Regions from separate parts of the Homo sapiens genome. Here region 2 is linked to region 1. The links come from fine-mapping of genetic effects on gene expression. A gene starts in region 1. The other region holds a variant in brackets. All regions are shown on one strand. Distances are from middle to middle.

Region 1 (4,395 bases):
TATAATAAATCCAGAAGACTTTCATTTTGTTTCACAAGCATCTGAAACTCAGCACAAGCAATTGACCACAGCATGTTTCTCTTTACCTATTCAAGCTGGCTCCTCCCCCTGCTCTCCTCCTCAAGCCCCCGAATACAAATGCCATCCACCCACTGTCAAATAGACAACCTAAATAAGAAAATAAAACCCTTCCAGGCGCGGTGGCTGTAATCCCAGCACTTTGGGAGGCTGAGGCGGGCGGATCACTTGAGGTCAGGAGTTCGAGACCAGTCTGGCCAATGTAGTGAAACCCCTTCTCTACTAAAAATACAAAAATTAGCCAGGCGTGGTGGTGCATGCCTGTGGTCCCAGATACTCAGGAGTCTGAGGCAGGAGAATCGCTTGAACCCGGGAGGCAGAGGTTGCAGTGAGTCGAGATTGTGCCACTTCACTCCAGCTTGGGTGAGAGAGTGAAACTGAGGTTTGTTTTCAGTGCCGGAAATTTCTGATCTTTAGGGTGAAATACCTCAGTTTCTATCATGAATAAATTAGTTTCTAAAAAACCATTCCTAGCCGGGTGCGGTGGGTCACGGCTGTAATCTCAGCACTTTGGAAGGCTGAGGTGGGCGGATCACCTGAGGTCAGGAGTTGGAAACTAGACTGGCCAACACGGTGGAACTCCATCTCTACTAAAAATACAAAAATTAGCCAAGCGTTGTGGCGGGCACCTGTAATCCTGGTTACTCGGGAGGCTGAGGCAGGAGAATCACTTGAACCCGGGAGACGGAGGATGCAGTGAGCCGAGATTGCGCCATTGCACTCCAGCCTGGGTGACAAGAGTGAGACTCCATCTCAAAAACAAAAACAAAAACAAACAAAACAAAACAAAACAAAACATTCCTTTGGCGCCAATAAAACACACAGGGATGCCTGTGCCCTAAATGATCATCCAGCGAGAGCTCTGGTTATATACTCACAGCAAGCAGCTGTGGAATGCAGGATAGGGTAGGAGGTGGGCCAGGGGCTTGCTGTGGCCTCCGTTCTGAAACCGATCCCAACACGCCCGCGTCCTGCTCCAGTCCCTTCCCCTTGGCCCTGGAGCGAGGTGAGTCTTCAATGGAGGTGTTGATCGTGCCTGGGTGAGTTTTTAAAATGAAACATCTCCGCTGTTAGATCTCTGGCAGCGCGAGGCTGTGTACACGAAACTAGAAGCAAAACAGTCCGTTTCGTGTACTACTTATTCCAGTACCTCCCCATAAAAGTACGCACAACCCTAGAGGGATGCCCGCTAGGTGGCGCTCGTCCTCCACCATACCCAGGAGGGTTCGAGGCTGGCACGTCTTTTTAACACCCTGAGGGGTGATCTCCAACCCTGGCTTTTTAGGTAAGAAAACTAAGCCCCAAAGAGGGTCTTGCGTGAGGTCGCTTGGCTACGTCTCAGAACCGCGCGCACAATCTGGTTTCTGAACCTAATGAGTTTCCATCACCTGGCTGTCTCCCTCTACACACGGTTTAGTTTGTTGATTATAATAAAATGGTGTGTTTCCTTCTTTCTACACAACGAGGTTTACGTTCAGATCCGCAGGCCTTGGTGTGATTTGTTTTCAAATGCGTGGAACAGAAAAAAAGTCATTAGATTTGTCTGACTAAATTTTTTCTTTGATTACCTTAAATCCGAACGAAGCTCCTTTTCCAATGAATAAGCAATTAAAAATGGGTAAGGTCTATGATGGGAAACAATTAATAAGGTTAATGAGAAAAGCCGATTAGAGTAGAAAATCCAACTGGATTTGACATCAGACAAAGCCTGATTTAAATCCTGACAGCCACTTACTGATAGTCAGGAGTCTCAGTTTCTTCATCTGTAAAACGGGCATAACAATGTTTTCTACTCATTCCAATCCCAGGGGTGTGTACATTCAATGAAACAATAGGCTTTGGTTCCTGGCACACTGTCAGTGAGCAATATTTGTTAAAATATAAAACTACCTTTTATATTATTATTTATAGTATTATAAGCTGGCCAGTTACAATACAGCCTCTCTCTGCAGTCTGATATATTTTGATCGTGTGCATGAAAAACGCTGCAGGGCGCTGGATTACTCAGGAACGCAGGCGCGGGTGCTGGACGCTTGGGATGCTTAGGCGGTTTGGATCGCCCTCGGGAGTCTGCGGATTGGGACCGACGGTCAGTGCTGGGCGCGACCTCTGCCTGGACCTGGCTCTGGGGAGCCGGCAACGCTGCCCCTCCCTCCCCTCGCCCCCGCCCCCACCCCAAACACACACACACACCCTTCACTTGCTCACTCAGTGAAGCACCGGGTTCAGAAGGCACCGGGTCCAAACCCTCGTTTTAAAGGACTGGAAGCTAGAGAAGGCAGGTGACTTCAATCAAGGTCACCGGCATCTGAGGGACGAACCCCGCATGGCCTTTCGTTGCTGGGCAGCACCCGGCGCGCGCGACCTCCGGCCGCTGGCGTCAGGGAAGGCGGCCCAGGGCACAGGTGGCGGGCGTCGGGGGCGAGGCGCGCGGTGGCGCAGCCAGGAAATCCCGAGCCCACTGGGCGCCCCCCTCGGGAGCGCGGGCACGTGTGCAGCAGTTTACTGCGCGCCCCCGAGGGCCGGGGCTTCCCCTTCCCCGCCCCCTTGGCTTTCGCAGTCAAATCCCGCTCTCCGCCCGCCGCCCGCGGAAGTCTCACCGCGCAGCAGCACCCCCAGCCCGGGCGGTTCCGGGGACCGAAGGGCGCGGCACGTAGGGGGCCCGTAGGATCCAAACTGCGGAGGAGAAGCAGGAGGAGGGAGGAGGAAGAAGACAAAGGTGTGGAGGAGGAGGGGAGGGAGGAAGAAGGAAGAGAGGCAGAAGACTAGGAAAAAATGGGCCCGTGGGCGCGGAGGGGGCGCGGCGGGGTAGAGAGGCGCGGACGCTGAGCGAGCCCGGTGCCTCTCGAAAGCCTCACCGGCCGCCCGGCCGGGCCGCGCAGCTCCGCCAACTCCCGGGCCGGCCCAAGCCGGAGCGTGGCGCCCGTCGGGAGGTTGCAGAGTTCCTGGAGCTCACAGCTGAGCCCGAAGGAAGTCGCCCTCGATGGGCAGGAAGCGGGACCCAGGCACGCCCGCGCGGTCGCGTCCAGATCTGCCGTCCTCCGACAGGCGCAGGCCTGCTGCGCCTTCGCCACACACCGCCACTCTGGGCCTGGACTCCGTAGTTACGCCGGGATATCTCTGGGCATACAACCACCTCCCCTTCCCCACAGTCTTTTCATCTCCACCCGACCCCTTGCTAGGAGCAGCTTCTAGTTGCAGCTCAAGACCCGCGAGTTCACCCTCCGCGCCAAGCACCCAACTCCCGGCTCTGCCTACAGTCACCCACAGACCTAATGATCGACTAAGCGCCGTAATGGCCCGAGATGACACCAGGAGACTCCCTTGCTGTGCGCCTCCGGAAGACGCGGAACGTAGCCCCTTTCTCACACTCCTGGGACACAAAAATACCCGACAACTCAAAGTCGCCAAACCACATCTTTTCATGCTTTGAAGACTTCTGCCCAAGGCTGTGGCAGGAGTATGTCCAACTGTGATTTGGGATTCTTTTTAAACATCGAATCAAAGGGAAGAGGGGAGGGATTCGCAACTAAATGGTAGTTGTTTTCAAGCAAGTCTTTACGTAGCCCCAAACCTACTCTAGTATTCGGTGATTCAGCCCCAAAACATCTCTGCCTGCCTTTATGTTCGGATCTCACTCCATTATTTGTCAGCACCAAGTACTAAACCCACAAAGCGATCGCTGTACGGGACACCAAACCCATACCTGCCCGTCCCCTACCTTCCAGGCAACCAGTGTCAATCTCCTCACTATACATAATTCCCAACATCCCTGCCCGAAGTGAGGAGAACGGTAATTTAAATAATACAGCGGGGGAGGAGAGGACACACTGTTTTTGAAAGACTGTAAGCATTCTGCTGTTCCACTCTGCGTCCTTACACTTGCTGAGCACTGACACCAAATTTAAATGGCGTTCCTTCAAAACTGATGTAATTGTAAAGAGCTGTAAAGGGCAATGACCTCAAGTGGATGTTTTTTCCCAGGTACCCTACAAGGTTTGCACAAAGCAAGAAAGCATCATGTAACCGAAATGCTGAAAAGTATAGATGCTGCAAAACCTCATTCTGAGACTGAGAACTATGAATAGTCAGTGTATTTCCTTCTGCGGTGCAGAAAAAGAACAACCAAAAAGAAAGCAACAAGGGGAGATGTTATTTATTTTAATGACACCAAAACTACCAATCCTAGCAATTTAATAAATTAAAATCATAGTCCTTTAAATGTATTTAATGGTTCAAGTTTGTGTATTTGGTGTTAACTCTCTGGTAAAGTTTATGGAAAACAGTGAAGTACGTTAATTGAGCAAATTTTATATT
Region 2 (4,395 bases), 88 kb after region 1:
TAAAACAAAGGTATTATATGCCTAATCTCTATCACTAATTATTTTACTATGTATTTCTGTTATCTGTGTTCTCAAGGTTGTTTACATCTGCTGTATCTATATGGTGGAAATGTTTTATAATGGTGACCTCCCCAACTCTGTTCAGTGGTATCACATTGATAGCTTAAAAATGACCGCAGGCTAGCATTTACACCATGAAAATTGGCAAAGATTACGGCAAACTGTCACCCCTGCTGGGCCCTGAACCCCAAGCCAATTGATTAATATTTACCAGTGTCTCACTAGTTATGACTACTGTGTTCTATACTTGTTTGTGTGTTTAGTTTTGCTGCAAGACTGTGAGTTCCTTATGGTTTGGAACTTAAATCCGTAGGAATCCAGCACAATGCTTGGAGTTTAGTTGACAGACAAATGTTTTTAATTATTTAGTCTTTGGTTCAAATACTGGCTCCATCACTTACCTATCAGTATGACCTTGGTTATTTTAACCTCTGTTTATTGTTTAAAATGGGAATAATAATACCAGCCTTTCATGATTGGTGTGAGGATTAATGAGGAGACCTTGACGTGTGTCTGGTATACAATAGGTGCACAAAAGTAGTTGATTACTACTGTTACAACCTAAGAAGTCGACATAAATGCCATTAGGGTCCGGGCTTATACTGTATGTAGAGCTTTGTATTAAGTGTTTGACCACAAACTGGATGAGAATCAAGAATGTGGTAGTTATTTCTGTGTGCATATATACTTCTCCTTCCCACACAAAATAATGAGATAAATTAAAAGGAATATGATATATAAGAGGCAGGAAGCAATCCTTCTGTTGTATTTGGCATTGCTGAGACTCTTAGTACAGTATTACGTCCAGTTTTACATTGCTTATTTTAAAGAGGATGTCAAAAAACTATATGTAGTGTGTCCTGGGAAGAATCAACAACTATGATTAAAGGGATAGAAAAATAGGCCCTTCGAGGCAAGTTTAAGGAACTGAGTTTGTTTACTCTGGAAAGGAGATGGTAAAGGAGTTACTTAACTCTGCTCAAGTATATGAAGGGTTAGTTTAAGAAAGATACTCTCAAGTTCTCCAAATGCACAGTGGACTAAAAGAGGAAATCGACATTTCATTTAAAGAAAATTGTGTTAAACACTTAAATTGTCTATCAAGGGATATCATGGAATCTCTGTTTTTGAAAATATTTAAAAAGAGTAGCAGCAGATGATTATTTATTGAAAGGTTTAAATGCTTGACCTCATGAAAGTGAGAGGTAGGATTGTAGATGTTGTAGCCTTTTCTACTTCTTTGATATGATTTTCTTATATTTACTGTAACTTACCAAGCATATTCCAGATATCTTATTGGAAGACCACTTACAATTTTGATAACATTATGTTTTAGCTTGCATTGCATCTTAGTTGCTGGATTTATCTTGAATGAAAACATTCAGTATTATCAATCTGCTAGTAAGCAATTTAAATGGAAGTTTATATATAAAACACTACACATTTGTATTTTTATACCCATTTTGACATATCTGAAGCATTACGCAAGTATTCATTAAGATTTTTTCACCAAATAATACATTACAGATATTTTGTAACTCTTTTGTGACAGGGAGTCCTCTTGGTATATGATATTACAAATTATCAAAGCTTTGAGAATTTAGAAGATTGGTATACTGTGGTGAAGAAAGTGAGCGAGGAGTCAGAAACTCAGCCACTGGTTGCCTTGGTAGGCAATAAAAGTAAGTTATTACTGCTTGTTTATGTATGGTACAGTTTACTTGCTGTTGTGGACAGAATGTTTGTGTCCCCCCACCACCCCCAATTTATATGTCAAAGACCTAATCCCCAAAATGATGGTGTCTGGAGGTGGGGTTTTGGGAGGTAATTAGGTCATGAGAGTGGAGCCCTTAAGAATGACATCTGGCAGGGCGCAGTGGCTAATGCTTGTAGTCCCAGCACTTTGGGAGGCCAAGGCAGGGGGATTGCTTGAGGCCAGGAGTTTCGGACAAACCTGGCCAACATAGTGAGACCCTTGTCTCTATTTAATTAAAAAAGAGAATGGGATTAATGCCTTCATAAGAGACATGAGAGAGATAATTCTCTCTGCCATGTGAGGATAGGCAAGAAGGTG[G/C]CTGTCTGCGAACCAGGAAGAATGCCCTCACTGGATACTGAATCCGTCAGTACCTTGATCTTGGACTTTACTTACCGAAGTTTGAGAAATAATGTTTGTGGTTTAGGCCATAGTCTATGCCATTTGTTATGGCAGCCCAAACAGAGGACTTATTGAGACATTTGCCTATCCTGTAGTTTTAATTCCTACAAAGAAATATTTGATATTTGGAAACAGCTTTTCTGGAGTGAGCAAATTATTTGAGTAGAAAATTCCTAAGAGTGTGTACAATCTTTTCAATAACTGTTTTGATGCGTGGTCTATTATAACTGCTCCGCTGCTTTGGTCAATTCCTGTGAAGGTAAGTTTAGTTCTGACAGTGTGTGTTTTGGCTTCCTGTGGTCTAGGAAAGCAGCATGGATTATGAAGAACAGCAACACAGCTGCAGATTTTATGATATTGCATTGCAGTTTCAGCTCTGTCCCAGAGGTTTTGAGCGATGCATTTCATTGAATGATCTCCTATTTTAGGGAAGAAAGAAGTGTCTACATTGGAATTTTATATGCATTGTTTCTTGCTCCTGTCTCTTATAAACTTCCTCTTCTAAATTTTTGTTTTTTTTCTGAAATATAATTTTTTTTTTTTGAGAAAGAGTGTACTAGGGAGAAGAGTGGTTCTTGGTAAAAATTATGGGTTTGTTAGTAATTTTGAGACCTGTCTCAAATGATAGATAGCAGAGAAAAATTATAAAACTGAACTCAGTACATGACTGGTTTTTGGTTCCTAGTTCTGCAATGCAGTGACTTAGAAAAAGAGACATTAATAAAGGTTTTCAAATATAGTCATGTGTTGTTTAACAACAGGATATGTTCTAAGAAGTGTATTGTTAGGCAGTTTCATTGTGTGAACGTTATAGAGTATATATTAGGGTTCTGTAGAGGGGCAGAACTAATAGGATAGATGTATATATGAAAGGGAGTTTATTAAGGAGAATTGACTCACATGATCACAAGGTAAAGTCCCACGATAGGCCATCTGCAAGTTGAAGTGCAAGGAAACCAGTAGTGGATCAGTCCGAGTCCCAAAACCTCAAAAGTAGGGAAGCCAACAGTGCAGCCTTCAGTCTGTGGCTGAAGACCTGAGAGCCGCTGGCAAACCACCAGTGTAAGTCCAACAGTCCAAAAGCCACAGAACTTGGAGTTTCATGTTCGAGGGCAGGAAGCATCCAGCACAGGAAAAAGATGGAGGCCGGAAGACTCAGCAAATCTGCTTTATTCTAGCCATACTGGCAGTTGATTAGAGAGTGCCCACCCAGATTGAGGGTGAGTCTGCCTCTCCCAGTCCACTGACTCAAATGTTAATCTCCTTTGGCAACACCCTCACTGACACATGCAGGAACAATACTTTGCATCCTTCACGCCAATCAAGTTGACACTTAATATTTACCATCACATAGAGTGTATTTACACAAACCTATATGGTATGGCCAACTACACACCTAAGCTATATGGCACAGCCTATTGCTCCTAGGCTACAAACTTGTATAGCATGTTCCCATACTGTAGGCAGTTATAACACAATGGTGAGTATTTATCTGTCTAAGCATAGAAAAGGTACAGTAAAAATACGGTATAAAAGCTCCATTATAATCTTATGGGACCACCATCATATATGTAGCCCGTTGTTGATAGAAACATTGTTATGCAACACATGAATGTATGTGAAATATTATATGATTCGTTGTTTTCTAACTTATTTGAGGTCAGAAAAAGAGAAAATGATTTCAGATTTTACCATGGAAGATTTAGGTCAGGTATTATTTCCTGACAACAAGAGTTGTTAAATCAATACCTACATACATTACCAAGAGAATTATCTTTTCCAAAGGTCTTTAAAAATGTAGTACATTTTTTTTTCTCTGTAATTGTTTAGGAAGCAGTGCTTCCTGAAAGACCAAACCAAGATTTTTGCATTATGTGGCTTTGCACACTAGATGAGTATTTAATAAGTTCAAGCTTAATTTAAAACCATGATGACACAGGTGTGAATGTCATTTCTCTGAGGAGTTAAAAATACAGGCATTGTCATACTATCATACACTCTGGAAAATGGTATTACATATCATAAAATGTTATGGCTTGGGTAGAAATTGTAGTTTGCTTTTTTAAAAGCTTTAGTTAAATTTTGCTCATTTGTTTTGCAAATGATTCTTTTTAATTGAGTGAATCAGATGCTTTTCAGTTCATTGAAAATCCCCCTTTGACAAATCATGTTTTGATGAG

Alleles and levels. Alleles are on the strand shown, and positions count from the first base shown. SD is a standard deviation of normalised expression in the study named.
For the expression in lymphoblastoid cells of the gene that starts at base 2,555 in region 1, G is the high allele of the variant in region 2 and C is the other (large effect, 1.1 SD a copy in GTEx).

What was found. PIP is the estimated chance that this variant, and not a neighbour inherited with it, causes the effect. A credible set is the group of variants that fine-mapping cannot tell apart.
Region 2: its variant is the best candidate, but not a certain one, in a credible set for the expression of LINC01096 in lymphoblastoid cells (GTEx, PIP 0.82).

Annotation. Positions count from the first base shown.
Region 1 is chr4:13,545,984-13,550,378 of GRCh38, reverse strand. LINC01096 (long intergenic non-protein coding RNA 1096) reads left to right here and starts at 2,555. Exons shown (of 1, transcript NR_015450.1): 1 at 2,555-4,303. It also overlaps a transcript of NKX3-2 not described here. RefSeq lists enhancers at 1,080-1,374, 2,744-3,244, 3,245-3,745 and silencers at 2,419-2,718, 2,909-3,028.
Region 2 is chr4:13,458,046-13,462,440 of GRCh38, reverse strand. RAB28 (RAB28, member RAS oncogene family) reads left to right here. Exons shown (of 7, transcript NM_001017979.3): 4 at 1,613-1,742. Among named protein-coding and RNA genes, the nearest start is that of RAB28, 24 kb to the left of the region's middle. The variant G/C (reference allele first, on the strand shown) is at 2,135.